Regions from separate parts of the Homo sapiens genome. Here all the other regions are linked to region 1. The links come from fine-mapping of genetic effects on gene expression. A gene starts in region 1. Each other region holds a variant in brackets. All regions are shown on one strand. Distances are from middle to middle.

Region 1 (8,105 bases):
ACCACGCAATGACTATGGTTTGGGAGAGCTTGTTCACTGGACCATGTCACTCCCTGCTTAAAACCCTTCAGTGACTCCAAAATGCCTATAAGATCAAGTCCAAACACCTGACCACGGCCACTGGGCCCTTTAAGGCCGGCCAGGCATTCAGGGTTCATCTTTTGTGCCTTTCAGCTTCATACTCCACAATGCAGGAGTACTAAGCCCCCTCAATCCCCCCACATGAGCCAGGCTTACTCTTTACCATCTGCCTTTGCACATACTCTTCCCTTTCTCTGAAACGTCCTTCCCCCTTCTATCACCCACTTCTTCCCCCCAGGTAACTCCTGCCATTTCTGCAAGATGCCAGTCTAAAAGAGGAGGCCTTTTCAGATCCCTCCCCCCACTCTGAGTTAGGGACCCTCCTCCAGGATATCAGTCGCCTGAGCTCACCCACGTCAGGGCACTTACACACCCTGTGTTTTCCAGGTGGTTTACTTGCTCTGGGAGCAAATTGTTAACACTTTGCCTTCATCCTCCTCATATTCCCGGTCCCCAGCACAGGGGTGGGTACAGAAAATACAAATAGTAAATGCCTACGAAATAAATGAGTCGGTTGGTGGCAAGTAACACTGTTTTACCTGTACTAGGAAACGTGTGAGAGACATACTGGCAAAATCAAACAAGTTAATGTTTCACTGGGCTGGGCAATGGCAAAATGAGGAGAGCCCTAACCTTATATTTATTTATATTTATTTATTTATTTATTTATTTTGAGATGGAGCTTCACTCTTGGTGCCCAGGCTCGAATGCAATGGTGCGATCTCAGCTCACTGCAACCTCCGCCTCCCGGGTTCAAGCGATTCTCCTGCCTCAGCCTCCTGAGTAGCTGGGATTACAGGTTCCCGCCAACATGCCCGGCTAATTTTTGTATTTTTAGTAGAGTCGGGGTTTCATCATGTTGGCCAGGCAGGCCTCTCCTGACCTCAGGTGATCCGTCCACCTCGGCCTCCCAAAGTACTGGGATTACAGGCATGAGCCACCGCGCCCGGCCTCATAACCTTGTATTTTAACAAGCACCGAAACAGGCAGTTAACCTTAGGCCCAATCTGCTTATAGAATAAGGAACAGGAACAGGAAAATCAAAAGGTTGGCTACACCAGAGATAACTATTTTGCCAATGAATATTTTCAAGCTGGGGATAAATGACAGAGACGGTTTTCAATATAAGGGTGGCAAATTTCCTCTGTAAATAAAAGAGAAAGATGCTAGGAAAATTAGCAAAAGCATGACCTTTGACCCAGGCTAGAACCACAAGCCCGTGCAATTGAGGGTGATGCTGCATAGTGTTCAAACTCTTACTGGGACATGCAAGAGCCTCCATTACCTCTGTGCCCACCTCTCCTCTGTCCACAACTGGCTCCTTACCTGCTCACCTGCACATGCTCCAGACTAAAGATCAGGAAAAGCTGGGGCCTCTCTGTGCCCCCAAGACCCTGCACTGGTTTCTCAATGCCCTTATCACCATGGACGGTCATTCAGGGCCATTAGACTAGGAACTCCTTTAAGGAAGGCTCTCGTGGGCCTGACACAGCAGGTGCTCACTTAACCTTGACTGTGTTCATCTATCTTTTTGAGAAGGGCTGTCCAGGCAGGCATCTGAGTAGCACTCACAGCCTTGGGAGTTCTAGAAGCCATCCATGATGTACGCACACAGCCAGTGCCCTGGGTAATGATGACAGGCACAGCTTTCAAAGCAGACTGTCCTGCCTCAAGCCCAGCTCTACTTCTTACCAGCAGTAACCAGGACAGACCCCTTTCTAAGGTAGCCACCTCAAGGGGCATGAAAAGGATGGAGTGAACACTATGTGCTAGCATGGCTGGAACATAGTAAGTGCTCAGTATGTCTCAGCTCTTACCTGGGGCACAGTGGAGACTGGCGAGTCAGCACAGTAGGAAACCAGCTTTGAGAGGCAGAGGGCTCTTAACATAAAAAACGGCACAGCTCGGTACTGCTTGCATTTATAAGGCACTTTTCACGTGGATTACTAGTGGTTAAGCTTCAAACAACCCTATAAAGTAGCTAGTGGTATCATAACTCACATTTCATTGATGAAGGGACTAATGTTTCAGAGAGGTGAAGTAAGTTTTCCAGGGACACGCTGCACTGGAAAGAGGGTTCTGCTAGTCCAAATAGGGAGCTCTATCGACCTGAACCGCAAGGATCCAGCCAGGAAGTTGAGATGCGGTTGGACAGCCTACACCACTTCTGCGCCAGGGGGAGGCTGCCCAGAACAGGACGCCCTCCTAGGAACCACAGAGTTTAGCAAAGAAAAGTTTCCCTCTGTCCTGGGTGATTGAGGAGAGCTGCATCCAACAGGCCCTTGCACGAGACCAAATGCGTCGTGGGCACGCGCACACACACACAGACACACGGTGCAACCCGCCCTTCCAGGCCACCTCCGTCAGCCTCAGGCTCTCAAGGAAACCTCGGTTTCCTGGGGAGCCCGAGCCTAGAACCATCCCGACTGGCCTCCGAAGTCAACTCCTCCCTTCCACACCCCCAAGTGCAGGTTTCGGGTTCAACTCTCTGAAGCCGCCTCCCCAGTCCCGCGCTAGGCACCGTCCCGACTACTAAACGGCACTGGGTACCTAGGAGTTGCCTCAGCAGAAGCGCCGCGCCTGGCACGGGTCGGGCACACACTGCATTCGCTGGGCGAAGTGGCCATGCCTGGGTCCCCGCGCCGGGCAGCATGCGGTGCCCCGCAGGGCTCGGCCGAGGGTGGTGGAGGAAGGGGATGCCCCGCGAAGCGGGAATTCGCACCTCTCGCTCTCTTACCTTCCTCATTCTCGTCAAACACGGGGGGCTTGTGGGAGTGGTTCCCGCCCATATTCCGCCGTTGCTGCCGCTGCTACATGCCCGGCCGCTGGGATGCCGGATGCGGGATGTGGGACGCGCGCAGAGATGCGGGATGCCGGGGGCGCGCCCAGTCCGGGTTGTAGCCGCGCGCGGAGCCCGAGGGGGCCGAGCACCGTGCAGGGGCGGGGACGGCGTCCCCCTTCTCCTGGACGCCCTTCCGACTGCGCTCGCAGGGACCCCGCTCTCGCCGCGCCTTCCGCCGTGCCCCGCCTCGGGCTGCGCTCGCAGCTCCTTACTCCAGTGCCCGCCCGGGAACCCGGGAGCTCCTCGCGCCGGGGCCAACGTGCGGCGCTCCTCGCCGGCTACAGCGGGCGGGAGACGCGAGGCGGCGCGGGAGCAGGGGAAGGAGGGGAAGGAGCGGGGGAGGAGGGGACGGACGAAGGCAGCACGCAGTGGGCGGCGGCAGGGCGGAAGGAGCTGAGAAAGGGATCGGCCCGGAAGAATCTGAATCCCTGCTCGGCCCTCCTCCCTCGGCCGGGAGCTCGGTCCCTGCAGGCAGTAAGCGGTTTGTCAGCACCCACTATGGCCAGGCCTCGGCTACGCGCTTTGTTAGCACCATCCCACATCCGCCTCCGACAACCCAGCAGTAAGAAAGCATCGTTCATATTTTAGAGCGCAGTAGACGGAGGTCTAGAGGTAGAGGGGCTCTTAGGTCTGTGGTTAGTCGGCCCCGGCTGCGAAGGGAGTCCCAGGACTCCCCGCTAGCCTGTATTTGCCCATTCATATTGGGATGGGCAGTGGAGTGTCTGCTGGCTCTCCAACCGACGCTGTTCCTCTTAAGGTTTTTCTCAGTGTTTAATGAATGAAAGTATCTGTTTACTTTCTGACCCCTTAAGATTAGATACTAATCTGACCCCTTCATTGTACATGGGGAAACTGAGGCCCCAGACAGCCATAGTTTGCCCCAAACCATTCTCCCTGGGAATGGCTGGGCATGAGTCTCGGGATTCCCCCAAAATTGGGCGGCATCGGCGTCCGATTTAGGGGCGAGGCTAGCATGAGGGTCCCTGGGCTCCTGCGGCGGGAGCCTGGATCGGGAGATACGCGCCACAGTTGCGGGTGCCTAAGTAAGGGGTGCGGCAGATGCGCCCCAAGACGTGTGGGGCGAGCGCGGGTTCCCAGGACGCTCCCTGAGGGACAGGCAGGTCCCCCTGCCTTGCAGTCCTGCGGGCCCAGCTCTCCGGGACTGCAGGGAATCTTTGGCTACATCCTGCCATCTGCTGGGCGCCTGGAACCACTGTCCGTGCTTTGATAGAAAGCAGGGGTTCTTTGTGACTCTCTCCATCCTATCTCGTCCCCCAGTCCCCGTCCCCTACCTGGTCTCTCTCTCCAGTTCTCTCCCCTTCTTTCTTTTTCTTGGGAGAAGGGTGAGGGAAGCCGGGGAGACTCATACAGAAACAAAACAAAACAAAACAAAACAAAAAATCTCTTAAAGGCAGTGGGAAAGAACTGAGAAGGTCTGAGGCAGGCCCACCCACCATGACCCAGAGCTGGCTCTACCATTTACTGGCAATGTGTCCCACTTTGGAGTTCTTATCTGCAAAGTGGGCTGATTGATATTAACTCCTTGGGTTGTCTGTGAGAATTATATCAGGTAATATTTATAAAAGCAGGCAACAGTGCCCGGCATATAATAAATGATGAATAAATATTTCTTGCCTTTCATTCCACCAACAAGCATACACTGAGTAGCCAGTGTGCAGCAGGCAATGCCCTGAACACAGAGCTGGCCCCTAGCTCAAGAAGCATAGGGCGGAATGTGGACAGGCATGGGCTCTGGGCTCATTCTACCCAGGTTTCATTCTGCTTTGCCCCTCATTAGCCAGTTAACTTGGATAAATTACTTAACCTGTTCTGGACTCAGTTTCTTCATCTGAGTCCAGAAGGTGCTAATAAGAGAACTTTCCCTTTCTAACATTGTTATGAGGAATATATTGATATTGTGCTAGGCCGGGCGTGGGGGCTCACACCTGTAATCCCAGCACTTTGGGAGGCTGAGGCGGGTGGATCACCTGAAGTCAAGAGTTTGAGACTAGCCTGGCCAATATGGAGAAACCCCATCTGTACTAAAAAAACAAAACTTAGCTGGGTGTGATTGCCAGGCCTCTGAGCCCAAGCTAAGCCATCATAACCCCTGTGACCTGCACATATACATCCAGATGGCCTGAAGCAACTGAAGAATCACAAAAGAAGTGAAAATGGCCTGTTCCTGCCTTAACTGATGACATTACCTTGTGAAATTCCTTCTCCTGGCTCAGAAGCTCCCGACTGAGCACCTTGTGACCCTCGCCCCTGCCTCCCAGAGAACCCCTTTGACTTTAATTTTCCATAACCTACCCAAATCCTATAAAACTGCCCCACCCATATCTCTCTTCGCTGACTCTCTTTTCGGACTCAGCCCGCCTGCACTGAGGTGATTAAAAAGCTTTATTGCTCACACAAAGCCTGTTTGGTGGTCTCTTCACACGGACACGCATGACAGAAATGTCACCCACCTGTAATCCCGGCTACTCGGGAGGCTGAGGTGGGAGAATCCCTTGAACCTGGGAGGCGGAGGTTGCAGTGAGCTGAGATTGTGCCACTGCACTCCAACCTGGGTGACAGAGTGAGACTCCGTCTCAAAAAAAAAAAAACAAAAGAAAAGAAGGCATTGGCCAGAGAGGGTGCTGGCGCTGAGACTGGAAGGGCAAGGAATCAACCGGGTTGGAAGAAGAAAGGAGGCTACTGGTGCAAAGTTCTCCAGGCCTAGAGAGTGGGACACTTTGCAGATGCTGGGAGATGTTCCACACGGCTGGAATTAGTCTTGCAGTGCAGTGTTCAGTGACAGCGTGCATGTGTATTGAGAACTCTGCATGTCCAGCTCTGTGCTAACTCTTTGCAGGGTGCTAGGACCTCCGGCAACCCCTTCACTTCTCTGCTCCCCATCCATAGAGAATGTGCCTGACTCTGGTACTTCAAGCGCTCTGCATGGATTTTCTCATCCTCACAGCAACCCTGAGAGGTAGGTGTGTCACCATCCCCACTCTGGAGGAGACTGGGGCACAAATAGGCTAAGCCAACTCAAATGGTTGAGAAGTGCAAAGACCTAAGATTTCAATGCAGAAATTGGCCAGGTGTGGCGTTTCACGCCTATAATCCCAGCACTTTGGGAGGCCTAGGTGGGAGGATCACTTGAGGTCAGGAGTTCGAGACTGGCCAACATGGTGAAACCCTGTCTCTACTAAAAATACAAAAATTAGGCCAGGCACGGTGGCTCACACCTGTAATCCCAGAACTTTGGGAGGCCAAGGTGGGTGGATTACCTAAGCTCAGGAGTTCGAGACCAGCTTAGCCAACACGGTGAAACCCCATCTCTACTAAAAATACAAATATTAGCCAAGCGTGGTGGCAGGCACCTGTGACCTCAGCTACTCGGGAGGCTGAGGCAGGAGAATTGCTGAAACCTGCAGAGAGTTGCAGTGAGCCAAGATCGCGCCATCGCACTCCAGCCTGGGCAACAACAGTGAGACTCCATCTCAAAAAAAAAAAAAAAAAAAAATTAGCCAGGCATGGTGGTATGTGCCTGTAATCCCAGCTACTCAGGAGGCTGAGGCAGGAGAATGTCTTGAACCTGGGAGGTGGAGGTTGCGGTGAGCCAAGATTGCGTCACTGCACTCCAGCCTGGCAACAGAGTGAGACTTTGTCTCAAAAAACAAACAAGTAAAAAAAAAAAACAGAAAATTATTCCCTCACCATTCTGGAGGCCAGAAGTCAAAATCAATCTCCAGAGTCTCCATGCTTCTTCCAGCATCTGGTGGCTCCAAACATTCCTTGGGTGGAGGCTGGAGAACTCTGGTCTCTACCACCATCTTCACATGGCCACCTCCTCTCTCCCTGTGTCATTTCTTCTCTGTCTCTTGAAAAGACACTTACTGGATTGAGGGCCCACCCTGATAATCCCAGCATGATCTCTTCTCAAGATCTTTAACCATTTGCAAAGACTGTTTTCCCAGATAAGATCACACATACAGTTCCAGGGGTTAGGACTTCAACATATTTTACTGGGGGCCACTGTTCAACCCCCACATCTACCTAGTGGCAAAGCTCCTGTCTCCAGGTCATGCGTTGACTCACCACCTGCCACTGCTCCCTGATTTCTACCCGGCTTTCCTGTCATCCAGGAGCCCTGCAGGGCAGCCAGGGCTGTGTGTCCCCAGGGTCTTGCTCAGCACTGGTACAGAGTTGATACTTTACAAATATACGTTGATGGAATGAGTGAATGATGGTTTCAGATGTGTTGAAATGGAGATTTTGTCAGAAACATTGTGAGATGCCCCTCTCTATTAACCATCAATCAGACCTCTGGACTTTTATTTTATTTTTATTTTTATTTTACTTTAAGTTCCGGGATACATGTGCAGAATGTGTCGGTTTGTTACATAAGTAGACATGTGCCGTGGTGGTTTGCTGCACCTATTGACCCCTCCTCTAGGTTCCCTCCCCTCATCCCCCACCCCCCAACAGGCCCTGGTGTATGTTGTTCTTCTTCCTGTGTCCATGTGTTCTCATTGTTCAGCTCCCACTTATGAGTGAGAACATGTGGTGTTTAGTTTTCTGTTTCTGTGTTAGTTTGCTGAGAATGATGACTTCCAGCTTCATCCATGTCCCTGCAAAGGACATGATCTCATTCCTTTTTATGGCTGCATAGCATTCCGTGGTGTATATGTACCACATTTTCTTTATCCCATTTATCATTGTTGGGCATTTGGGTTGGTTCCACAATTTTGCTATTGTAAACAGTGCTGCAGTAAACATATGTGTGCATGTGTCCTTATAGTAGAATGATTTATATTCCTTTGGGTATATACCCAATAATTTGACTGCTGGGTCAAATGGTATTTCTCACTCTAGATCGTTGAGAAATCACCATACTGTCTTCCACAATGGTTGAACTAATTTACATTCTCACCAACAGGGTAAAAGTGCTCCTGTTTCTCCACAGCCTCACCAGCATCTATTGTTTCTTGACTTTTTAATAATCACCCTTCTGACTGGTGTGAGATGGTATCTCATTGTGGTTTTGATTTGCATTTCTCTAACGAGCATTGATGTTGAGTTTTTTTTCATGTGTTTGATGGCTGCATAAATGTCTTCTTTTGAGAAGTGTCGGTTCATATCCTTTGCCCAGTTTTTATGTGGTTGTTTGTTTTATTCTTGTAAATTTATT
Region 2 (8,105 bases), 27 kb after region 1:
AAGGAACTCTGCATTAGCTCTGCAGCCAGAAATGACCGCAGGGCAGCTGATGATGTCCAAGAAGGAGACGCAGGTCTCAGCCTCTGGATCTGGAAGCAGGGATGCAGCCCCTTCAGATCCTCTTCCTCCATCCATCTCCCAGCTCTGCTTGTGTACCTCCTGGTCTTGCACACTCCAGAGCAAAAGACTTAACTGCTGGCAACGACAGCATAGCCATGGTAGGGGCATGAGAGGGCAGCTCTCATCCTGTGTGCATCTTTCAACACCAGGTAGAGACACTGATTAGTCCCTCCTGAGCCATGGGCCCATCATCACTCCTGTAACAGGAGGGAGGAAGTAGACCAAGATGGGATTATGGAACAGGGTTGATAACCAGAAAGAACAAAAACCAAAACCACAGTCACTCCAGCTTTTCATGTTTATTTCTTCTTCACAAAAACTGTGCAATAAGTGGTATAAACCCCACATCAAAGGAGGATGAGTAATGGCCACATTTGCACAGCTGCATGGTAACATAAGTGAGATCTAAACTGAAGTCTGTATTACTCCAAAGCCTGTAGTTTTTCTCCTAGGACAAGCTGGGACCCTTCTTGAAGGACTTTCTCTGAGTCCTTTCTGTGTACCAGGCCTGGGGCAATGTTTGGGACACAGCTCCTCCTGCCTGCTGTTTCTCATTAAAGTTCAAATCCATGTTTTGGGGGCTTATGAAGGAATCTCTCTTCTAAAACATGAATCGCTTTTCATAATCTCTGCCCAAAAGCAAAGCCCAGCCTTGGTGTTTGTGTTCATTCCTTCACTCTGGGCCATGTGGGCCAACTTTCCACCTGGGTTTGCCAAGAGCAAAAGCAACAAGCTCAAAAACACATCACATAAACAGGGGAAGATGTGTTACTTTTAACCAAAGGAATACCAATATCAACAGGAGCACCAGAGGCAATGTCCGGCTAGGTATTCAGTCTACCCCAACCCCAACACCTCCTGGCTGTCAGCTTGATTAGTGGCTCCTGACCTCAAATGCAGGCAGAAGTGAGGGAACAAGAGGTAGCCTCTTTGCAAGCGTTGATGTGTTCAATGCTAGGCTCTTACCTTAGCACTCAGACTCTTCGTGTGGTCTAGTGCAATGTTTTCTAAAAAAGATGGAAGCTGCTGCTGGACTCTTCTAATCCTTGTCAAAGACAGCTATTGGCTGCAGGTTGGGCAACAGAGGACATTTGAGAATGGTGATGTCCATTTCAGCCTGGGTTTCCATCACAAGTGGGCACAGGATGGGAACACAGGGAGCAGGCAGGAGAGGTGATAGTCTGTGTTCCAGCCATGTCACAAGAGGCCACAGCCAACAGCAGGTTGCTGTTTCTTACAGTTCACTGGTGATATGGTTTGGCTCTCTGTCCCCACCCAAATCTCCCCTTGAATTGTAATAATCCCCATGTGTCGAGAGCATGAACAAGTGGAGATAACTGAATCATGGGAGTGGTTTCCCTTATACTGTTCTCATGATGGTGAGTGAGTTCTCACAAGATCTGATGGTTTTATAAGGGGATTCCCCCTTTGCTCGGTTCTTATTCTCTCTCCTGCCACCTTGCTAAGAGATGCCTTCTGCCGTGATTGTAAGTTTCCTGAGGCCTCCCCAGCCATGCAGAACTGGGAATCAATTAAACCTCTTTTCCTATAAATTACCCAGTCTTGGGATTGGACTAATACATGAGATTGGACTAATACAACTGGGAACATCCCATAACCCCTCAGGACTGAAAACCAAGAGTATTTCCCTGGTTACCTGTATCACTTATTGGAATATGCCTGTCTGAACAGCTTGCAGGAAAGGGTTAAATGCTCTTTCTCCTGAAATGATTTTTAAAAGTCTCAGATCCTGAAAATATTAGATCACAAGAAGAAAACAGAAGGTACTTAAGCAATGGGCAGCTGAGGTTTGGTATCTGCTGGAAGGATCTCCTCATCATGTGTATGTCTGCTGCTGGGATAAGGTCTGCACTGGGAGGGAGTCGTGGAGGCCTGGAAGGGAGGCGGCTTAAGAGAGGTGTCGGTCATGGGACATGGTGTCCTGGACCACCCTGGGCTGTGTTAGAGAAAGAGACAAGCGTACTTCACATTGTGGTAATGTCTCCGCCCCACCTCACTTACCCCATCCCAGGGTGTCTCACCTTCATGGCCCATTAGTGGGCTAGGCCAATATGTGTGATCACATTGTTCTTGTCATAGTTTAGAGGGGACTCCTCTGTTGGGCCAGTACCATAGTCTGAGTTTGAGTTTCCCCAAAAGCTGACTCTGAGACAAGGATTTGAGTGCAAGACGTTTCTTTGAGAGCAAGCCCAGAAAACACTTGTAGAGAAATGGGAACATGAGACAGAGAAGGACAGAAAGCCAATACATCCATGGATTACCATCAAGCAAGTTCTCACTGTGGACCCCTAGAGCTTGATCCTGCTGGGGGACTTTCGGAGACACTGTAGAATTCACCTCAGAGTTATCCCACCAACAGGGTAAAGGAGTAGGGATATTTACACACCAATGAGTTAGGAGCTCAGCTGAGCTGAGACAGAGCTGAGCTGCAGGTGTCTAAGCAGCCAAGTTAAAGCAAGAGCCAAAAATGAGAGTTAAGCCTTTGGTCACTCACTGCAATGGTCTAAGGAAGAGGCCAAACTAGAGGAAGCCCAGCTCCCCCGTTCCACCTCCCCCCTGGACGGGTGCTTCCTCACATCCTCACATCACTATGGGGGATCAAGTGGACCAGCATAGATGTGGAGGTGGGGGTCGTCTCACTGTTGAGGGAGCCCCAACAAAAGGTTCCTGCTGGTCTATGGACCACGGCGGAGGGGGAGGCAGGGAAACAGCCCCGAGTAGAAAAGTGCTGGGTCCTGAGTCAGAGAAGGGGGAAGGGTGTCAAGGATTCCCCCCTCCCATACTCGGAGGTCTCTGCAGAGGCGCCTGGGGAGGACCTGGCCCAAGTCCTCAGATAAAGAGACCCACGAATGAAGGTGCCAGGCAAATAGGTAAAGGGTTTGGCCAGCCTGGGGGCCTGAGCATTTTACAGCAACTCCCTTCAGAGATTGCATGCAAAGCTCTGGCTGTGTCCCAAGCCTGGGGTTGGGGG[T/G]GCAGCTCCCCCGATCCCCTTGGGGGCCTGTTGTGTAAAGCCGTTGTAACTGCCCATGGATGACATACAGATTTTTAACCAGAAGCCAGACTCTTCCCAACTTTCATGAATCATCGGTTGAGGGCTACTTCTGGGAGGCATTAAGAGTCCCCAATACTCTGGCTTGCTCTAACGTGGGCAGAACAGGCACCTATGGCCAGAGGAAGGCCTGTCGCAGAGGGTGGTGCTGGCAGGTGAAGCCTAGCCCACCTGCCCTTAAATGTCAGGGCTGAGGAGGCTTGGACAGGGCATAGGCAGGGTCCGCTTCCAGCACAAAGCTCAGGACTTTCTTCAGTGGTCACAAGGGAGACCCTACTTCTCAGGACAGGGCCTGGCTTTGGGATGGAGCTAATGGTATATGTGTCAGTTAGAGCTCAACCCAAGAAGCATGACCAGTGGCAGAGAGATATTAAGAGATTTAGTACAAGGAATTGGCTTGCATGATTGTGGACATTGGCCAAGTACAAAATTGTAGTAGGGTAGGCTTTCAGGAAGTGCAAACTGGAATCACCAGAACAGACAAAGCTACTCCACAGGCAGAACTCTTTCTTCCTCAGGGAAGCCTTGGCTGTGCTCTTAAGACCTTCCAACTGAGTAAATCAGGCCTACCCAGAGTATCTAAAATCATCTCCCTTACATAGAGCTTATTGCATAAGGACTCTAATTACATCTACAAATACCATCACAGTAACATCTGGATTAGTGTTAGAATAACTGAGGATGGTAGCCTAGTCAAGATGACACATGAAAACACTATCACAATATAGAACAGAGAAAGAGATAATTCCTTAGTGACTTCATTGAGTTCCTGGATCAAACCATTCCTGAGCTCCAGATTCCCTCTATATTTTCAAATTGCACTTTCCAGAAAACCCAGACTTTGGTGTCTCATGCTGAATTTTCTGTAACACACAGCCTACAGTCCTAACTGACATAGGAAAGGCTCAAAACTGATAGCCTCATTCTGACCAGATCTCCCAGGAAGGGTTGTGTTCCAGTCTGGGTCCCACATAGTGTAAGACTCATGGACACACAGCAGGGTTTGTGTCTGGGAGCCAGGGAGACTTTGAAACAAGGAGGAGCAAGATTGAATTTCTGCTTTAGAAATGGCCACCGGGAGGAGATAGGGCTCTAGACAGAGAGGCGTTAATCGTGATGTAATTGAAGGGTCTTGAGGCCACTTCTCATTAAAAGGGTTCACGAAGTGGGGATGGTAGCTCCAAAAGAGAGTTGACTCTGTTTTGAGGGGCAGGGAGGAGTGGAGGTAGAGACATTGAAGAATGAGAATGGTCTTAACATCGCCACACCTCCGTTCTGCATAAGAAGGTACAGGATTTGAAGGCCTGCACCAGGGTGTCATCGCATCTCATCTCCACCCTGGGAAGAATTTGGAGCTGCCCAGAGACTGGAAGGAAGTTGTAAGAGGCAAAGAGCTCCCTGTCCAGGGACGTATGCAAGCAGACTCTGGACAAGCACTTGACAGGGAGACTGTAAAGGAAGGATAAGCAGCAGGCAGGTAGATCTGGATAATTTCTAGGTTCCCACATTAATTTCTGTTATTCTACCAAACCCCAGAGAGACAGTATGCTTGTTTCCTGTGGCTGCTGTAACAAATCACCACAAACCGAGGGACTCCAAGCATCACGAATTTATGATCTTACAATTCCGGGCTCAGAAGGGGTCTAACTGGGCCCGTTTTGGAGGCCCTAGGCAGGAATCTTTCTTTGCATTCTAGAGGCCTCCTGAATTCCTTGGCTTGTGGCCTCTTCTCCCATCTTCAAAGCCAGCAGCACAATATCTTACAATCTCCCTCACTCTCTGTCTTTCACAGAGACACACACAAACACACACATATACACACACACACACACACATGCCTTCATACCTACCCCGCTTCCCCACTGCATTCGTCACCTCTCAGCTCTCACCTGATAGGGAGCAGCTGCCAGTGATGGGTTAGGGGCTCCAGAAACACTAGGATTTCTGCCATCACACCACTCACCCAGAGTGTCAGCTGCCCTCATCAATCTCCTCCGAGAGGATAGCAACTCTGTCATTCACTGTCTTTTCACCCATCTCAGTGCCTGGCACACAACAGACTCTCGATAAATAGATAGACATGCATCTGGCAAATGAAGAACCCATCCAAAGGCAATGGCCGATATCTACCTCAGAGATGTTCACCTGCTCGTTAACTCTGACTCTTCAGCTCTCCTGCATGATGGGGTCCGTGCCCGATGTAAGACATTAAGAAAACCAGAAGAGACCTTTTGGCGGAGACAAGGGCTTACCTGATTTGTGGGCAAATTCCTGCCTGGATTTTTAATATTCGGAGCAGCCAACTGCTGAAGGAGCCTCAGAAGGGGGCAGAGAAAGAGCTGGTGGGAGGATGCAGGTGATTCGTGGTGAAGGAGACATTTGAGAACAGAACACACGTGCGGGGGTCCACCAGCCTGTATCCAGTGCGGCGTCTCATAGGGAGCCCCTGGTGGGGAGCCACGTCAGGCTGTCCTGCGTAGGTTTCTTAGTGGGCTTGTGCCTTAATCTCTGAGTAACACGAGTAGTCACCAAGTCCATTCAGCCACACCTTACTGGTCATCCGCTCTACCTGGCTGCGTGCTGGGTGCCGAGAAACAGATGAGAAAGACTGTCTTTCTCTCCTAGAGAAGGGCATGGTCATTAAAGGAGACAGATGCCAGGAGGCAAGTCAATGTATCATGCATAGGATGCGGAGGAACCCTGGAGAGGGCCAGAAAGCAGATAGAATTCCCGGATGCACACTGGCATGCATTGGGCTCGGCAGGCAAGCTTGTGTGTGTTGGGCTCGGCACAGGCTGTTTCTCCTTGTCTCCACCTGCCCTGGGAATCAGCACGAGGCACCCTCTCCTCTGGTGTTCTTCCCATTCATCCCACTCCTGGCTTGGTAGAGTGAGAGGTGGCGATTCTCTTGCACCTGGCCCAGTGCACAACAGCCTCATTCCTTGTCTCCCCACTGACTGTGACTCCTCAGGGGCCCAGCATCCACCATATCTCAGTTGGTACCAGTGACAGCTTATGGCTACAGCCACTTACTCATTCATTCTCATGCTCAATGGGAAGGCCTATAAGCCTCTTTGCAGCTCTGAGCTCAGCTGATTTACCCAAGAAGTCCCATGAATAACCACACACGGTATTGCGGGTGGAACAAGGTCAAGTCTCCCAGCAGTACATTTATCTCACAAATGACTCCTGTTTTCCAGCACAGCAATGTCTCCTTGATCTAATGGTGCAGGACTTGTTTGGTCCATGGGCTTGTTTTTCTTCCCTGCTCTGAATTTAAGCCCATTCCTTGAGCACATCCAGAAGCCCTAGAGCATTTTAAAGCAGACCTAGAGTCCCCAGCTGGGGCCAGCTATTCTGCCAGGGAGGCCCATGCCCCAGGCACTATCATGGAGGGAGTGTGGAGACTCCTTCACCCAGAAGAAAACACATCTGTGCCTCCACTTGCCACCTCCAAGCACACACAGTTCTGCCCGAAGGCCGCGGTCCCTATGTCATCTTGCTAAAGGTGTTTAGAGAACACATTCTCACCTACAAAACAGGAAGGCACAGCTTACAGTCCCTGCCCAGGGCTTTTACCACCAGAAACTAGATAAATAAAACACTGGGGCTGGAAGGAACCTCAGACATCGCCCAGCGTGATGCTATCCTGTTTACAGACAGGGAATGGAGGCCAGGTCGAGAAGGGATTTCTCCTGGCAAATACAGTGGGGACAAGCTGGAGCCGGGCTTCATCCCTGTGGTTGATCCTCAGTCCAGCCCTGTGTCCAGGATGCCATGCTCTGGTTCACCCATCCCTGTGGGCTGCATCTTTGGTTGTTTTGTTCTGGGAATGTGGAGCTTGCCCAGGATGCTCCCCTTTCCTCCTTTGTTGGAGGAAGCTTTGGAGGCAGGAAAGTCCAGACATAGCTCCAGGGCTCCACTGCTCTTCCCAGCTTCACATCCCCCGAGGCCCTCAGTTTCCTCGCCTGGGAATTGGGAATAACCCCATTCACTTCATTGGCTGGCTGTGAGGGTCATAGCGTTCCCAATGGCAGCTGGCCTGGTGGCTGCTGGTATGTAAGTCATGTTCAGTGTTAAGGAAGAATCTTCTCCCTTTTGACAGTTCCTTCTTGCTTGTTGCCTGATCTTGGGCAGCCTGAGGACCCCAACTCATCTCTGCCTGCAAGAGTCCTGCTCCTCACCCATCCTGCCCTGTGGGATGGAAGAATGGCAGGAGGACAGGGCCTGAAGTCTCATCCCAACCCATGTGCCTCCAGCTTTGTGACCTCCAGCAAGTTGCTGGAACTCTTGAGCCTCAGTTTTCCCACCTGGAAAATGGGACTCTTTTCTGTGGCACCTACCTCACAGAGACAATTGCTGGATTTAACAGAGACAGTGCTATTAGCTCCGATCACTTGGAAACACACAATGGGCCTGGCATGAGGCTTGCTCAGTCATGCTATATCCTGTTGATTCCTCACTATGGCCTTTTGAGTGAGCCACTCTCACCAGCCTCATCTCACAGATAAGGAGATGGAGGAAACACTGAAGAAACTTGCCCAAGGTCAAAGCCAGAAGGCGGTGACCCTGCTTTGCACCCACGGCGTCTAAGTGGAGAGCCTAGACCTTTACCTGCCACTGTCTTGGGAAGTTAGCCCTGAGGGAGATGCACTTCTTGAAAACTAACCCTTCCTGAGGGTCTGCTCTCCCTCGGGGCCTGTGCTGGGAGCTTGAGGTAGAAGAGGGTGGGGGTACTCACACTCCCCACACATACGGCCGCTCAGTGAGCCCATCCTCCGGACCGAGAGACACACACGGCTTCTGAGAGGCTGGGGGCCCTGGCCCAAGGCTCACCTACCTGGTTAGCGATTGATGGACGAGGACACCGGTGGCCTGACCGCAGCTCTGCATCCCTGCTCCACTGCGGGCTGCC
Region 3 (8,105 bases), 50 kb after region 1:
ACAGCCTTTGGGGTAGAGTGATATTCAAAGAGGTTCAGTAATTTGCTGAGGCCAGATCAGCCATAAAAGTGGTAGAATTCTGTCTCCAGACCCTGAGCTCCAGCTCTTTCCACGTGTGGAGGGATTCCCTGATGAGACCCTTTGGGGGGCTTTTCAGGACTGACATGTGCCTTTAGGAGTTTGAGGGGCAGGCCTGGAGCTTAGACAATTGCTCACGAGGCTCAGAGAGGTAGAGAGACCAGCCTGGAGCCACACAGCTGCTCAGCTGTAGAACCTCCAAAGCGCGAGTCCCCTCCCCTGACCCGCAACCCCCATCCCTCCTCAAGGTGTGCTGGGATAGTCAATGGCCTCCCGGGCCCACCCCTCCCCTGCTGGCCATCCACTCACCGAAAGCAGGGGTCTTGGGCTAATCTACCAGAAAGTACCAGAAGAAGCTGTGGGAGTGAGAGACCTTCTCCTCACCTCCTGAGGGAAGAACATTCCCTGCCATCCTCACAGCGCCTCATCAACCAGAGCAGATGCGAGTCCCATCCTGGCATCCTACCTGCTCCCTGAGGAAAGGAGAAAAAAATAAAGGTTGAAGCATCCCAGGCCTTGAAATCGTTCTCTAGGCATCCCTGCTGGTTTGTCTGTCCCTGCTGTCCCCTGGCTCTTTATCCTTTGCTGTTGGGTGTGGATTTTCACTCTGTGTTCCCTTTGCGTTCACGTCTTCAGCCACTTGTGAGAATTCCCTTCCCCAGCCATGGACTCAATGGGCTGTTCCCACCAGACTAGTCAGCCCTCCCCTCCCTCCATCCTTCCTCTTTTCTCCCCTCTCCATGCACAAGTCTGTAATTCTGGACCAACCCTCTGAGTTCCACCCCTGTGTATCCATGGGGTCTCCAAGGCTCTGCCTCTTACACTTTCCAAACCCCCAGCACCTGACCCCCCATTCTTCCCTCCCAAACCATCTCTCCTCTGCTCAGCTGCACATGGAAAGGTCTGCAATCATTCCGCGAGTTCACACCTTCAAGCAGCGTATTTTACTTTTTTAAGTGTTCTTTTGATTAAAAGTGGGAAAACAATGAAGGAACTGTTTACTGTAAAATTAGTCAAATACAGCAATTCCTCTTCTGAAGGCATAATATCATGGCTAAGACACTTATCTAGCAAAGAAAATTAATTTGTATGCACAGTTTTGACGCTGGAGAATTTACCTGGGGCCATAGTACCCTGGTGACAAATTGAAAACCTGTTCTGAGGAGGATCAGTGCAGAGGGTTACGGGCCACCAGGGAGAGGACACCCTCCACTCCTGTTGGCCTGCTGAGCTGAGACCCCAGCCAGCATGGCCTCGTCTCACTCCCCGGCCCTCCGTGGCTGTGGTGTCGTCAGCCTCTTATCAGTGTTGCAGACCACCTGAAATCGCTGATAAGCCTCTCACATCTGGCCTGGCCTCTCTTGCACTGCAGCCTGGCTTGGGAGGGGGAGCCCAGATGTCATAAAGCCACACTTGTTGTTTGAGTGACTTCTGTAAAATGGATTTATAGCTTCTGCTTATCTCTGGCCACAGGTGGTGCTTCCTCCAAGGAGACTGGGCCCGAGGAATAAGTCTCCCCTTCAGAGTGGGGATGCATTAGAGGAAGGAGCCGCCGCCCCTCCCCAGTCCAGCTTCAGACCTGTGGGCCACCCCCATCTTCACTGCACCTCTATTTTTTCTCTAATGCCCTGCAGTTTACAGAACATGGACAGACATGGTGGCTGATGTTACACCTTGTGTTTCAAAATGCAAAATGAATGAAAGATGTGTTCAGAACACAGTGGATATCTCCCATCCTAAAGATTACAATGAAATGGGATTTTTAGACAGTGATGTGGCTCACCTGAAGGCACAGGTGTCTGGCAGAAGCAGGCTTTGGACCACTTCCTCTAGTTTGAACACAAGGCTCTTCCCGCCAAGTGCCTTGGTCTCTCAGCTGTGGAATAACCCTACTCCCTCCTGCCTCCATGTTTTCTTTTCTTTTCTTCTTTTGAGACAGAGTCTCGCTCTGTTGCCCAGGCTGGAGTGCAGTGGCACAATCTTGGCTCACTGCAACCTCTGCCTCCTGAGTTCAAGCAATTCTCGTGCCTCCACCTCCCGAATAGCTGGATTACAGGTGCATGCCACCATACCCGGCTAATTTTGGGTTTTTAGAGAGATAGGGTTTTGCTATGTTGGCCAGGGTGGTCTCGAACTCCTGGCCTCAAGCGATCTGCCTGCCTCGACCTCCCAAAGTGTTGGGATTATAGATGTGAGCCAACACGCCTGGCCCTGCCTCCATGTTTTCAAAGATTGTTTTACAAAGTTCTCTTGTGTCCTGTGTTTTGGGAGTGAGATGGTTAACTGCTACCACCCCTAGGTGGGTGGGTGGCTGGGGCAGCAGGCAGAGGAGAGCTGGGGATACTTCATGGGGTTCCACAGGAGGCCTCCAGCTGCATGGAGTGAGGATTGTTTTGACCCTGAAGTCTTCCAACCTACTGGCTGCTTCTTGGTCAAAAAACAAAAAACAAAAACAAAAACAAAAAATAGGACAAACCCATTGACTGTGCAGTGGTATCACATAGGAGACAGTGGTATCAAAAAGTGGGCACACGTCAGGCCTCACAAAGTGGAGCAAAGGCCTGCGGTGGACCTGGCGAAAGGACGCAGCTGTTCTGTAGAGAGCAGTGTGGAAAGCAGTCTTCCTTGGTTGGATGAACCATGAGCACAGAACTCCCCAGTTACCAACAAAGGGCCTGATGCAGGAAGACTTCCTGGAGGGGAGGACAGAAGAGGACACCCTGAATTGCCAGACAAATAAAAGAGGGGCAGGAAGGGCATAGTAGATGGATGGTGTGGCTATGTGAGCCAGCCTGAGGGCTATCACATGGCTTAGTGCCAGGCACAAGACAATATCCAGACTTAAGAAGATGCACTCCTTGCTAAGGAGACTGGGAGGTTTGGACTGGGTGGAATTCACCCCAGCATGACAAAGCGGCTGTGGCCAGACTGCTTCTTTAGATTCTTCCTCACTGGGCAGGGCATCTCTGAAAGAAAGGCAGCAGCCCCAGTCAGGGGCTTATAGATAAAACCCCCATCTCCCTGGGACAGAGCACCTGAGGGGATGGGCAGCTGCAGACCCAGCTTCAGCGGACTTAATCTTCCTGCCTGCTGGCTCTGAAGAGAGCAGCTGATCCTGCCAACGGGGATTCTCCCAGCGCAGCGCCCCAGCTCTGCTAAGGTCAGATTGCCTCCTGCCTCTCAAGTGGGTCCCTGACCCCCGTGCCTCCTAACTTGGAGAGACCTCCCAGCAGGGGTTGACAGACACCTCATATAGGAGAGCTCCAGCTGGCATCAGGCTGGTGCCCCTCTGGGACGAAGCTTCCAGAGGAAGGAGCAGGCAGCAATCTTTGTGGTTTTGCAGCTGCCATTGGTGATATCCAGGTGAACAGGGTCTGGAGTGGACCTCCAGCAAACTGCAGCAGACCTGCAGAAGAGGGGCCTGACCATTAGAAGAAAAACTAACAAAAGAAAGCAGCAACGACAACATTAACAAAAAAGATTCACACATAAAAACCCCATCCAAAGGTCATCAGCCTCCAAGATCAAAGGTAGATAAATCCATGATGAGGAAAAACCAGTGCAAAAAGGCTGAAAATTCCAAAAGCCAGAATGCCTCTTCTCCTTCAAATGATCGCAACTTCTCTCCAGCAAGGGCGCAAAACTGGACAGAGAATGAGATTGATGAATTGACAGAAGTAGACTTCAGAAGGTGGGTAATAATGAACTCCTCTGAGCTAAAGGAGCATGTTCTAACCCAATGCAAAGGAGCTAAGAACCTTGATAAAATGTTACAGGAACTGCTAACTAGAATAACCAGATGACCTGATGGAGCCAAGAAAACACAGCATGAGAGCTTCTTGAAGCATACACAAGTATCAATAGCTGAATCAATCAAGCAGAAGAAAGGATATCAGAGATTGAAGACCACCTTGCTGAAATAAGGCATGAAGACAAGATTAGAGAAAAAGAGAATGAACAGGAACAAGCAAAGCCTCCAAGAAATATGGGACTGTGTGAAAAGACCAAACCTACGATTGACTGGTGTACCTAACAGTGATGGGAAGAATGGACCCAAGTTGGAAAACACACTTCAGGATATTATCCAGGAGAACACCCCCAACCTAGCAAAGCAGGCCAACATTCAAATTCAGGAAATACAGAGAACACTACTAACATAATCCATGAGAGGATCAACCCCAAGACACATACTCATCAGATTCTCCAAGGTTGAAATGAAGGCAAAAATGTTAAGGGCAGCCAGAGAGAAAGGTCAGGTCACCTACAAAGGGAAGCTCATCAGACTAACAGTGGATCTCTATGAAGAAACCCTACAAGCCAGAAGAGAATGGGGGCCAATATTCAACATTCTTAAAGAGTTTTCAACCCAGAATTTCCTATCCAGCCAAACTAAGCTTCATAAGCAAAGGAAAAATAAAATCCTTTACAGACAAGCAAATGCTGATGCATTTTGTCACCACCAGCCCT[G/A]CCTTGCAAGAGATCCTGAAGGAAGTACTAAATGTGGAAAGGAAAGACCAGTACCAGCCACTGCAAAAACACATCAAAATATAAAGACCAACGACACTGTGAAGAAACTGCATCAACTAATGTGCAAAATAACCAGCTAGCATCATGATGACAGGATCAAATTCACACGTAACAATATTAACCTTAAATGTCAATGGGATAAATGCCCCAATTACAAGGCACAGACTGGCAAATTGAATAAAGAGTCAAGACTCATGGGTGTGCTGTATTCGGGAGACCTATCACACACGCAAAGACACACATAGGCTCAAAATAAAGGAATGGGGGAATATTTACCAAGCAAATGGGAAGCAAAAAGAGCAGGAGTTGCAATCCTAGTCTCTGATAAAAGAGGCTTTAAACCAACAAAGATCGAAAATGACAAAGAAGGGCATTACATAATGGTAAAGGGATCAATGCAACAAGAGAACAGCTAACTATCCTAAATATACATGCACCAAATACAGGAGCACATAGATTCATAAAACAAGTTCTTTGAAACCTACAAAGAGACTTAGGCTCTTACACAATAATAGTGGGAGACTTTAACACCCACTGTCAACATTAGACACATCAATGAGACAAAAAATTAACAAGGATATTCAGGACTCGAACTCAGCTCTGGATCAAGTGGACCTAATAGACATCTCCAGAATTTTGCACCCTAAATCAACAGCATATACATTCTCAGCACCATGTAGTACTTATTCTAAATTGACCACATACTTGGAAGTAACACTCCTCAACAAATGCAAAAGAATGAAAATCATAACAAACAGTTTCTCAGATCACAGTGCAATCACATTAGAACTCAGGATTAAGAAACTCACTCAAAACTGCACAACTACATGGAAATTGAACAACCTGCTCCTGAATTACACTTGGGTAAGTAATGGAATTAAGGCAGAAATGAATAAGTTCTTTGAAACCAATGAGAACAAAGAGACAATGTACCAGAATCTCTGGGACACAGCTAACACAGTGTTAAGAGGGAAATTTATAGAATTAATGCCCATGTCAGAAAACTGGAAAGATCTGAAATCGACACCCTAACATCACAATTAAAATAACTAGAGAAGCAAGAGCAAACAAATTCAAAAGCTAGCAGAAGACAAGAAATAACTAAGATCAGAGCAGAACTGGAGGAGATAGAGACACAAAAAACCCTTCAAAAAATCAATGAATCCAGGAACTGTTCTTTTTTAATTAACAAAATAGACTGGTAGCTAGACTAATAAAGAAATAGAGAGAGAAGAATGATATAGACACAATAAAAATGATAAAGGGGATATCACCACTGATCCCACAGAAATACAAACTACCACCAGAGAATTCTATAAACACCTCTATGCAGATAAACTAGAAAATATAGAAGAAATGGATAAATTTCTGGATACATACACCCTCCCAAGACTAAACCAGGAGAAGTTGAATCCATGAATAGACCAATAACAAGTTCTGAAACTGAGGTAGTAATTAATAGCCTACCAACACAAAAAAGCCCAGAACCAGACGGATTCACAGCCAAATTCTACCAGAGGTACAAAGAGGAGCTGGTACCATTCCTTCTGAAACTATTCCAAACAATTGAAAAAGAGGGACTCCTCCCTAACTCATTTTATGAGGCCAGCATCATCCTGATACCAAAACTGGGGAGAGACACAACAAAAAAAGAAAACTTCAGGCCAATATCCCCGATGAAAATTGATGCAAAAATCCTCAATAAAATACTGGCAAACCAAATCCAGCAGTACATCAAAAAGCTTATCCACTACAATCAAGTTGGCTTCATCCCTGGGATGCAAGGCTGGTTCAACATATGCAAATCAATAAATGTAATCCATCAGATAAACAGAACCAATGACAAAAACCACATGATTATCTCAGCAGATGCAGAAAAGGCCTTCGATAAAATTCAACATTCCTTCATTTTAAAAACTCTCAATATACTAGGCATTGATGGAGCATATCTCAAAATAATAAGAGCTATTTATGACAAACCCATAGCCAATATCATACTGAATAGGCCAAAGCTGGAAGCATTCCCTTTGAAAACTGGCGTAAGGATGCCTTCTCTCGCCACTCCTATTCAACATAGTATTGGAAGTTCTGGCCAGGGCAATCAGGCAAGAGAAAGAAATAAAGGGTATTCAAATAGGAAGAGGGGAAGTCAAATCGTTTCTGTTTGCAGATGGCATGATTCTGTATTTAGAAAACCCCATTGTCTCTGCCCCAAAACGGCTTAAGCTGATAAGCAACTTCGGCAAAGTCTCAGGATACAAAATCAATGTGCAAAAATCACAAGCATTCCTATATACCAATAATAGACAAACAGAGAGCCAAATCATGAGTGAACTCCCATTCACAATTGCTACAAAGAGAATAAAATATCTAGGAATACAACTTACAAGGAATGTGAAGGACCTCTTCAAGGAAAACTACAAACCACTGCTCAAGGAAATGAGAGGACACAAACAAATGGAAAAAAAATTCCATGCTTGTGGATAGGAAGAATCAATATCATGAAAATGGCCATACTGCCCAAAGTAACTTATAGATTCAATGCTATTCCCATCAAGCTATCGACTTTCTTCACAGAATTAGAAAAACCTACTTTAAATTTCATATGGAACCCAAAAAGAGCCCATATAGCCAAGACAATCCTAAGCAAAAAGAACAAAGCTGGAGGCATCACACTACCTGACTTCAAACTATACTACAAGGCTACAGTAACCAAAGTAGCATGGTATTGGTACCAAAACAGTCATATAGACAAATGAAACAGAATAGATACCTCAGAAATAACACCTCACACCTACAAGCATCTGATCTTCAACAAACCTGACTAAAACAAGCAATGGGGAAAGGAGTCCCTATTTAATAAATGGTGCTGGGAAAACTGGCTAGCCATATGCAGAAAACTGAAACTGGACACCTTCCTTACACCCTATACAAAAATTAACTTGAGATGGGTTAAGGACTTAAATGTAAAACTAAAAATCATAAAAGCCTTGAAGAAAACCTAGGCAATACCATTCAGGACATAGACATCGGCAAAGACTTCATGACTAAAACACCAAAAGCAATTGCAACAAAAGCCAAAATTGACAAATGGGATCTAATTAAACTAAAGAGCTTCTGGACAGCAACAGAAACTAGCATCATAGTGAAGAGGCAACCTGCAGAATGGGAGAAAAAGTTTGCAATCTACCCATCTGACAAAGGTCTAATATCCAGAGTCTACAAGGAACTTAAACAAATTCACAAGAAAAAAAAAATTCAAAATGTGGGCAAAGGATATGAGCAGGCACTTCTCAAAAGAAGACATTTATGTGACCAAGAAAAATGTGAAGAAAAGCTCATCATCACTGAGAAATGCAAATCAAAACCACAATGAGATACCATCTCAAGCCAGTCAGAATGGCGATTATTAAAAAGTCAGGAAACAATAAATGCTGTTGAGGCTGTGGAGAAATAGGAACACTTTTACACTGCTTGTGGGAGTGTAAACTAGTTCAACC
Region 4 (8,105 bases), 370 kb before region 1:
GTGAAACCCCGTCTCTACTAAAAATACAAAAAAAATAGCCAGGCGTGGTGGCGGGTGCCTGTAGTCCCAGCTACTTGGGAGGCTAAGGCAGGAGAATGGCATGAACCCAGGAGGTGGAGTTTGCAGTGAGCAGAGATCACGCCACTGCACTCCAGGCTGGGCAACAGAGCAAGACTCTGTCTCAAAACAAAAACAAAAACAAAAACAAAAACAAGATACAAAAATTAGCCAGGCATGGTGGCATGTGCCTGTAATCCCAGCTACTTGGGAGGCTGAGGCAGGAGAATCGCCTGAACCTGGGAGGCAGAGGTTGCAGTGAGCCAAGATCATGCCATTATACTCTAGCTTGGGTGACAAGAGTGAAACTCTGTCTTAAAAAAACAAAACAAAACAAAACAAAAAAACTGTCTCGAACTTCTCCAGTGGTCCAGGATCTACACTCCTTGACATCAATTTGCTTTTCGGAAACAGCATGAAAGCAGTCAGAACGAATCGGTAGGAATACAGAGGAGGCTTCTAATGGGAGCTGCTGCCCTTACCTGGCATCTCTCTTCTCAGCACTCCCCTGTGGGATGTCCCCCTCAGCCTCCACGTGCCCCTTCCAGCACAGCATTCTTGAGCCTCAGAATCGGTTCTCTGCCTTCCTGCATCCTCCTTGGGGGATCCTGTCCACTTCCATGGCTGTGCTGCATCTCAGTGCTGGCAGGTTCTCCATCCACATGTCCAGTCTGCATCATGCCACTTCACAAACCTACTGCTCTTGCTGGGTCCCCTACAGAGTGAGCACCACTCTGCTGCACAATCCAGAGACCCGAGAAGTTGCCGTTGCCCCCATTCTCCATCCCATCAGTTGCTGAATCTCGCCCAGTTGATCTCTCTTGAATCTCAAGGCAGTGACCTCTTTGGTCAGACTTGCCCCAGCTCCAGGTCCTTCCAGAAAGCGATCTCAGAAAGGTCGTCAACAAAAAAAGCCTTGTTGGAGTAAGTGTTCAGGCTCCCATGAAGACTACTTATAAGTGAATGAATTCACTTATATGGATATCTGCTGGTATTTTTGCTAAAAAGGAGTTGCTGTCATGGGAGTCCAGGTTGAGATGTACTTCAGAGCTTGGGTTTTGGAGTCACATTGACCTGGGTCTGACTCTTGCCAACAATGTCAACATGGGGAAGTCACCCAACCTCCTAAGCCTCCATTTCCTTAACTCTAAAATGGAAAGAAATACTTGTGTCTATTTCATGTTCGAGGGCATTAAAAGAAGTTATAGGTTATAGTTAATGTGCCTGTCTTCATGTTAAATGAAATTATAGGTGGAAAGCACTTAGCTCGGTACCTGACATATAGTAAATACCCAAAAACAAGTTGCCTATTATTTATACCATTGCAGGTATTTATAGTCAAACTTCATTTATTCTATTTATTTAATAAATCAAAGATTAATGACATGAGTAGTGGATTCTAGGGATATGATGGTATAGATTTTGAATCTCCCCAAATCTGCATATAAAACAGAGCAAATAGATCACTAAACCAAAAACTCATGGATGCATTTGCTACAAAAATAAGTTCTCCTTACAACCCTCAAAATACAGGTGGGTAGCAGCAAAACACAACAGTGACAAGAAGCGCATGGTAGTGATTTCTACACGGAAAGAAACCAAGAGAAGCAACAAAGCAGCATTCTATGGACCAGAAAACAAAGAACTCCAAAATACTCAGCAGGTATTCACTGGGAAACACAGACAACGACTTTGAGAACAGCGGCTGAAGCTGGTAGGAGTTTGTACAGTCTAGTATCAGGGGCATTGAAAGGGCTCTTGATAAATTCTGAAGGAGACTGAAGAGTCTGGGACATCAAAAGTCTATAATCCACCCAGCCACAACTCCTTCCAGGAAAAAGCCCCAAGGAAAAACTGTGTGAAGTAGAACCAAACTGCCTCAGGACAGAGACCCTACAGACAAAGGAAAGAAGAACTCCAGATAAAAATGGGAGAGGAGAACAAAGCCAGGAAACCTGGATAGCAAGCTGCCTTAGATTTTGACACTTCACCAAACAATACAACAGATAGGTCTGTTAAGTTAGGAACGCTATCCTGAACCACACCATCTTCTAAAAGTTTAGAAAAACAAAGTTCACATAAAATGAGCAATTTCTACCCCTCTCTCTTGCTGGAGGCCCCTCAGCTGGCTCTATTTTGATCTCAAGTCTAAAGGTGGAATTTATCCTTCCAGGGAAATAGTCATTTCTTTTTATATCTGTAAGGAAGACAATAAGAAAGTTATAGCCGATCCCCAAAAACCTAGTGTTCATGAAGATAGATTGGAATTTAGGCTTTGCCAAGGGCTCAGGGAGGTCTCTTCTTCCTCAGGCCATGTGGAATTCAAACCCTCCACCATGTCCAAACTAAGCCTCCTCCCCCACTGCAATACCCATGTGCAACTCTAACTCCTCCAGGCGGTTTTAGGCACTGTTTATGCGGTCAGGGAAGAAAGATTTTGGTTGTTTAATTCAATATACAGTGCCTTATAAGGCACAACCTGGCCAGAGTTAAGTGAGGCCAAACTGGGAACAGGGCATTTTCACTGCTGAATGACAGACAGCAGCAGAGAGTTCAGCCAAGATGGTGGACTCCTCATCCCAGTGGTTAGTTTTCTGCGGCAAAAGTTGTACCTCTGGTTAGGTACCGCCTATAAATGCTTCATCCAGTTATCAGATTCTATGCTTCCTAAGGCCTCCTTCTTCCATTTGAAAAAGGAAAATAAAAGAAAAACATTAATAGCAGTAACCATTGGAAGAAAGGTATGGAGAAATATGGGCTTTAAATGTTTGTGCACCTTTGTGCAGCACTGATTACATTTTCTAGCCTTAAACATGTATTTCTTATATCATTTGCAATGGTAAATGGGGATTATCTAGGCATAAAACTCATGCATATGATATATTAATAATCATCAACAATTACTGAAACAAAAGAGCAACAGAAAAGTATCAAAGTCAAATTCCATACCAAGTTATTATAAGTAAAAGGAGAATGAAGAGCAGAATAACATCATTGCAATAAAAACACACAGAAAGATGTGCTGATAAAACAGAATGAAACTATAGCCTACGTTTCAAAAGAGTTAAAAGACACAGTGATGGGTTGTTTCATTAATGGTTCCCCAGTGCATCAGCCTTCTGATAGCCATGCTCCATGCAGTTCCCTTCCACGTGGTTGGCTATGTGACTTGCCTTGGCCAACAGAACACCAGGAAATGTGAAGCAGGCAGAGTCCTGAGAAGCATGGGAGAACTGGCTCTACCATCTTGAAACTGCATGTGAGGAAGCTCACTCTAGCCACTTTGATGATGAAAGACCACATAGAGAAAGAATGATATGTTCATCTCAGCTGTCCTAGCTGAACCTAGCTCCCAGCTGACCTACCAGTTGAATGCGTCTTCATGAGTGAGCCCAGCCAAACCTGAGGAAAAACCACTTGGTCAACCAAAAGAATTGTGAGAAATAACGTTGTGATTGTCTTAAACCACTATGTTTTGACACAGTTTGTTACACAGTAATTGATAACAATATAGACATTCAGAATTAACACGTAATAAAGATATTAACAAAATTATATAAGACCTGAAAAACAACATTAATTAGAATAAAAAACTCAGAAATCAGGTGGGAGAACTTAGGGAGAAAGAAATAAAGGGAAAATGATTTCAGAAATGAAGACTTCAGTAGAAAACACACAAAACAAATAAACACAATAGATAATGCCTTGGGAGAAGAGAAATATAACAATGAGAACATTTTTAAAGAAATGAAGGAAGAGGTAATAAAGATTTGAGGGACACTGACAAATGCTGAAGATTGGCAAAGAAGATCCAGCATTCAGATAAGAGGCATCCATAACCAAGAAGATAAAAACAAGAGAACAGAATGCAAACTAAAAACAATAATCCCATAAAAATTCCTTAAAAAACCATTTAAAACTACACATTGAAAGAACACTGTGTGCCTAAGAATGTAGACCTAGAATGACCACCACCAAGTTAAATTCTGGAAAATACTGAACATAAATGGAAAAGAAAATACTTGTTTTGTTTGCCACCCTCTCAAGCCTGAGCCATGGCTCTCTGGCTGAGCAGGAGTTCTCTAGAAAACCAAGAGGAGAGGGGTTGTCTAGCAGAGGAGACAGCTTGGAAAAGGTCCAGAGCTTCGAGGGAGCATTGTATCTACTGGGAACTGTGGAACCTCATGTGAGCATGGGAGGGTATGTGGCAGCGGGCAGTGGCAGATGAAACAAGAGAAGGATGCTGAGTCTTAGGCAGTGAGCCCGATCACATGAAAAGAAGGGGCCTGGAACACTCACCCATGTAGGGCTTGGTGCCAGCCATGGAGGAAGCCCTTTCTGCTCCTTTCACTACCGTCGCTATGTTGAAGTCTGTAATGTGAACATGTCCTGCAAATACAGAAACAGAAACTCCAGTTAGC[G/A]TGGGCTGCAGGCAGCTGGGTTATTTAAAGCTGTGGTTTGCAAGGTGAGATACCGTGAAGAAAACATTAGAACTTCTATTTATAATACTATCGTATCTGATACTTTAAAAATGTTTATTTTGTGTGCATGTTTCAGAATGTAAATTCATTTGGTAACTTATGCATATTATTTTTACATAAATATATTGAGGGGCAGGATACATTTTTTATGAATTAAAAGTTTGGAGACACTGATGTGGAGAATTAAAGCTCCTAGAAATAACTGAGACAGGTCACTCCAGACGCCTTCTCTCAGGAAAACTGTAGGTGGGCTATGGCTGGGGCGGGGGTAGGTGAAGAGGATTCTCCCACCCAGAGGACACTGTTTGTTCTGCTGTTTGTCCGCTATGGTCATTGGAGACCTTAGTACTGTAATTGAGGAATTTAGTAGGGAGAAGGCTGTGGTGTTGAGACCACCTTCCATCCAGGATGAAGTGATGGCAGCAGATGGGCATGGATAGGCTGGGTGCACCTACAAAGTAGGTGTTCAAGAAACATGACAAGGAAGGAAAAGGGAAAGAGAAGAAGGGAAGGAAACTAAGTGATGTGCAGATAAAAGAGGGAAACAGAAGAGAAGGAAGGAAGGGGACAGGGAGGAAGGAAACACCCAAATGGTCAGTACTTGTTTTTTGGGAAATTTTGGTCAGTACTTGCTTTTTGGGGAATTTGGTACATATAAGACTCCAGCTCAGAAAGCCTTGGATAATAGTTATAACTGCAATTACATTTCTCTCTATTTGTCTGTCATCACATCATGTGAAAATGGCTGGCTGGATTTTCACCAAACCTAAGAGTGGCATTTGGCATGTGGGACTTAAATGCATAGATGGGTGGCACATGCAAAATTGACTTTGAGGGACTTGGAAGGCATCACCAAGAGATGGGAAAACACATTCTGGAGCAGGTGCATTGAGGCATGCTGAGAAGCCCATGGGACTACATATGGGAGGGGCATGCCTGATGTGATCGGCTACAGTGGACAAAAAAAGCACCAGCAGTTTAACATACCACCCTCTAATCTCAGACTCAACTGCCAGCACTGACATGTGAGCAAGCTGCTCAGCCAACTATCTGTCCAGTGATCCTAGGTGAGATGCAGCAGCAAGGTATTTATTCAGTGAGGATCCATAATACTCTTCAGATACTTGTGGATGAAGCTGAAGTCACCCAACCAGGTCTTTGCTGGGATGCACAGTATTCCTACCTAGGCAACATTCCTAGAACATACCCAGGCTACTTTAGCCTCTGGGGCTTCCTCAGGCCCCTCCCTGTGGCTGCGATGAGTATGTCTCTATTCAACCATCCATGGTCCTGTCTGAAAAGTGGCAGTGTGTAGTAGTAGTTGGGTGCACACACTCTGAGCCAGACTGCCTTGGTTTGGGCCTCAGCTTTGTTGGGAGTAGCTGTATAACCTTGGGCAAATAATTTAATCTCCCTGGGCTTCAGTTTCCTCACCTATAAAATGGGATGATGATAATAAAATACCCATCTCAGAAGGCTGTCGCAGAAATCAGGGAGTTTATACACATGAAACGGTTAGAGTGATGGTGACATGCAGAAAGTAGAGAAGCTTCTCATAAGTGTTTGCTTTTAGCATTATTATCCTGCCGAGGAGTGGCTCAAAACCCATCTTCTCCAGCCAGGACAAATCTATCTCCTGCACCCTCCTATTCCCTTATTTCTAATACCAACAAGAAAGCAAACTCATTACTGTTTTGCACTTTGAGGCATGTGAAGGTGAGTGTATGTTGTAGTCACTGCTGTACCCCACACCCACACAGTTCCAAACAGAGTGACACATGTCAGCATTGGAAGAGGACTATGAAGCCTTCAAATATGGTTTTTGTTTGGTTTTCTTGCGCCTTCTCCCTCTTTCAAAAGTTTGGTATTTTCATTATGAAAGTGATGCCAGCTCATTAAAATAAGTGAAAGAATACAGACATGTTTTTGGGTTACCCCTTTAAGCCCCTCAATGTCTCTCCCACCCCCATGTAATCAATCACACAATTCATCTGGCTCCTCCATGATTTCTCTTTGCTTATGCAAATGTATATATGATTTCTCTTTGCTTATGCAAATGTATATCCATATATATGGGGGCTTTGGTTTGTTCTTGCAAACCAAATGAGATCATACTGCATGGGTCACTCTAAAAATTACTTTTGAATTTAGCCATGTATCATGGAGTGTGCCTAAGAATATATACCCACAGTGCTCCCCAATGTCCCCCAAGCTAGTATACATAGGTCTATCTATGACATCCACAATCCTTTATCCTCCATTCTAAGTCCAATTTTTTCCACAATTATTTTGGTGGTAAGATTTGACCCGAAACATTCTTTTTTAGTTTTATTTATTCCATTTTGGATGAATATCCACGTTTTGCGGTAGAAATATTAATGTATTTGATTACAAGGTGTTCCTCCAAACCTGTATGGAGTATTACATAGTATAAAAATATATTATTTAAGATATTATTACATATTGTGTTAAACACGTTATTTTATATTATTATCATATATGTTATTTAATATAAATGAATTTTTACATCTGAAAAAAATTCTAAATTATGAAAACATATCTGCCCCAAGGGTTTCAGATAAGAAGCCATGGACCTATAGTTACACAGTATTCCATAGGATGTCTGTATCATACAATGTATCATTTATTCAGCAATTCCCTATTATGGGTATTCAGGTTGTTTCCAATTTTGCTTGCTTAATTGTTTGTCTTGTTACTATAGAATATGTGACAAGAATTCCTGAATATATCTTTACATGTTAGTACTTTTATTTTGAGTAAATCCCCAGAAGTGGGATTGCTGGGACCAAGGGTACGCATATTATGTTCCAAAAAGTTATAATTGATGGCACTATAAACAGAATATGAGCATGTGTATTTCTCTGCACTTTGCCAGCACTAGTTGTTATCAGTGGTTTTGTTTTGCAAGTTATATGGTGAGAAATGTTACCTCGCTGCAGAGGAGGCTGCCCGTTTCCCATGTGATCAGCCTCTCAGACCCTTGGTCAGTTTTCACTGGGAGCTCCTTGTCTTCAAGATACATTTGCCCTTTTCTCTGCTATGTGTATTGCAAATATTTTCTCCTAGCCTATTGTTTGTGTTTTGACTTTGTTTATAGTGCCTTTTGCTATAAAGAAGTTTTAAAAATGCAAATAATGTTAATTTTGTTTTAAGTGTTGTTTCTCTTATAATTTTCCAATTTTCAGGAGCTACCCAAAATGATATCCTTTGTCTTTGGACAGTGTCATGCATGGATATGATTCCCTAGAACTGCAGAAGCTATTTGCGACCACAAGGAAAAACAGCATAAAGATGTAGGCTGTCCATGGAGAAGGCAGAGCTTCAAGTATAGCAGAGAAATGGTGCCAGAGCCTGATCAAAGCCTGCCTGAAGCCTGATTCCACTGAACTTCAGCTAAAAAATACCCTTTACTATCTAGGACTGTTTAAGTTGGGCTCTTTGTTCCTTGCTACTGCTAGTATCCCAACTGATGCAGACCCTTACTGACTATGTGACTTAGACAGGTTATTTAAGCTCTGAAAGCCTCAGATTCCTCAACTGTAAGAA

What was found.
Region 2: its variant is fine-mapped to the expression of STK32B in whole blood (TOPMed, PIP 0.97). The same link has a PIP of 0.9 or more in blood mononuclear cells.
Region 3: its variant is fine-mapped to the expression of STK32B in whole blood (INTERVAL, PIP 0.92).
Region 4: its variant is fine-mapped to the expression of STK32B in B cells (Fairfax 2012, PIP 0.95).

The regions. Positions count from the first base shown.
Region 1 is chr4:5,046,629-5,054,733 of GRCh38, reverse strand. STK32B (serine/threonine kinase 32B) reads right to left here and starts at 3,254. Exons shown (of 12, transcript NM_018401.3): 1 at 2,819-3,254. The coding sequence starts at 2,870. RefSeq lists an enhancer at 2,014-2,552.
Region 2 is chr4:5,019,922-5,028,026 of GRCh38, reverse strand. It overlaps a transcript of STK32B not described here. Among named protein-coding and RNA genes, the nearest start is that of CYTL1, 4.5 kb to the right of the region's middle. The variant T/G (reference allele first, on the strand shown) is at 3,113.
Region 3 is chr4:4,996,991-5,005,095 of GRCh38, reverse strand. No RefSeq gene overlaps it. Among named protein-coding and RNA genes, the nearest start is that of CYTL1, 18 kb to the left of the region's middle. The variant G/A (reference allele first, on the strand shown) is at 4,546.
Region 4 is chr4:5,413,186-5,421,290 of GRCh38, reverse strand. It overlaps STK32B (serine/threonine kinase 32B), which reads right to left. Exons shown (of 12, transcript NM_018401.3): 6 at 4,357-4,446. Among named protein-coding and RNA genes, the nearest start is that of LINC01587, 110 kb to the left of the region's middle. The variant G/A (reference allele first, on the strand shown) is at 4,479.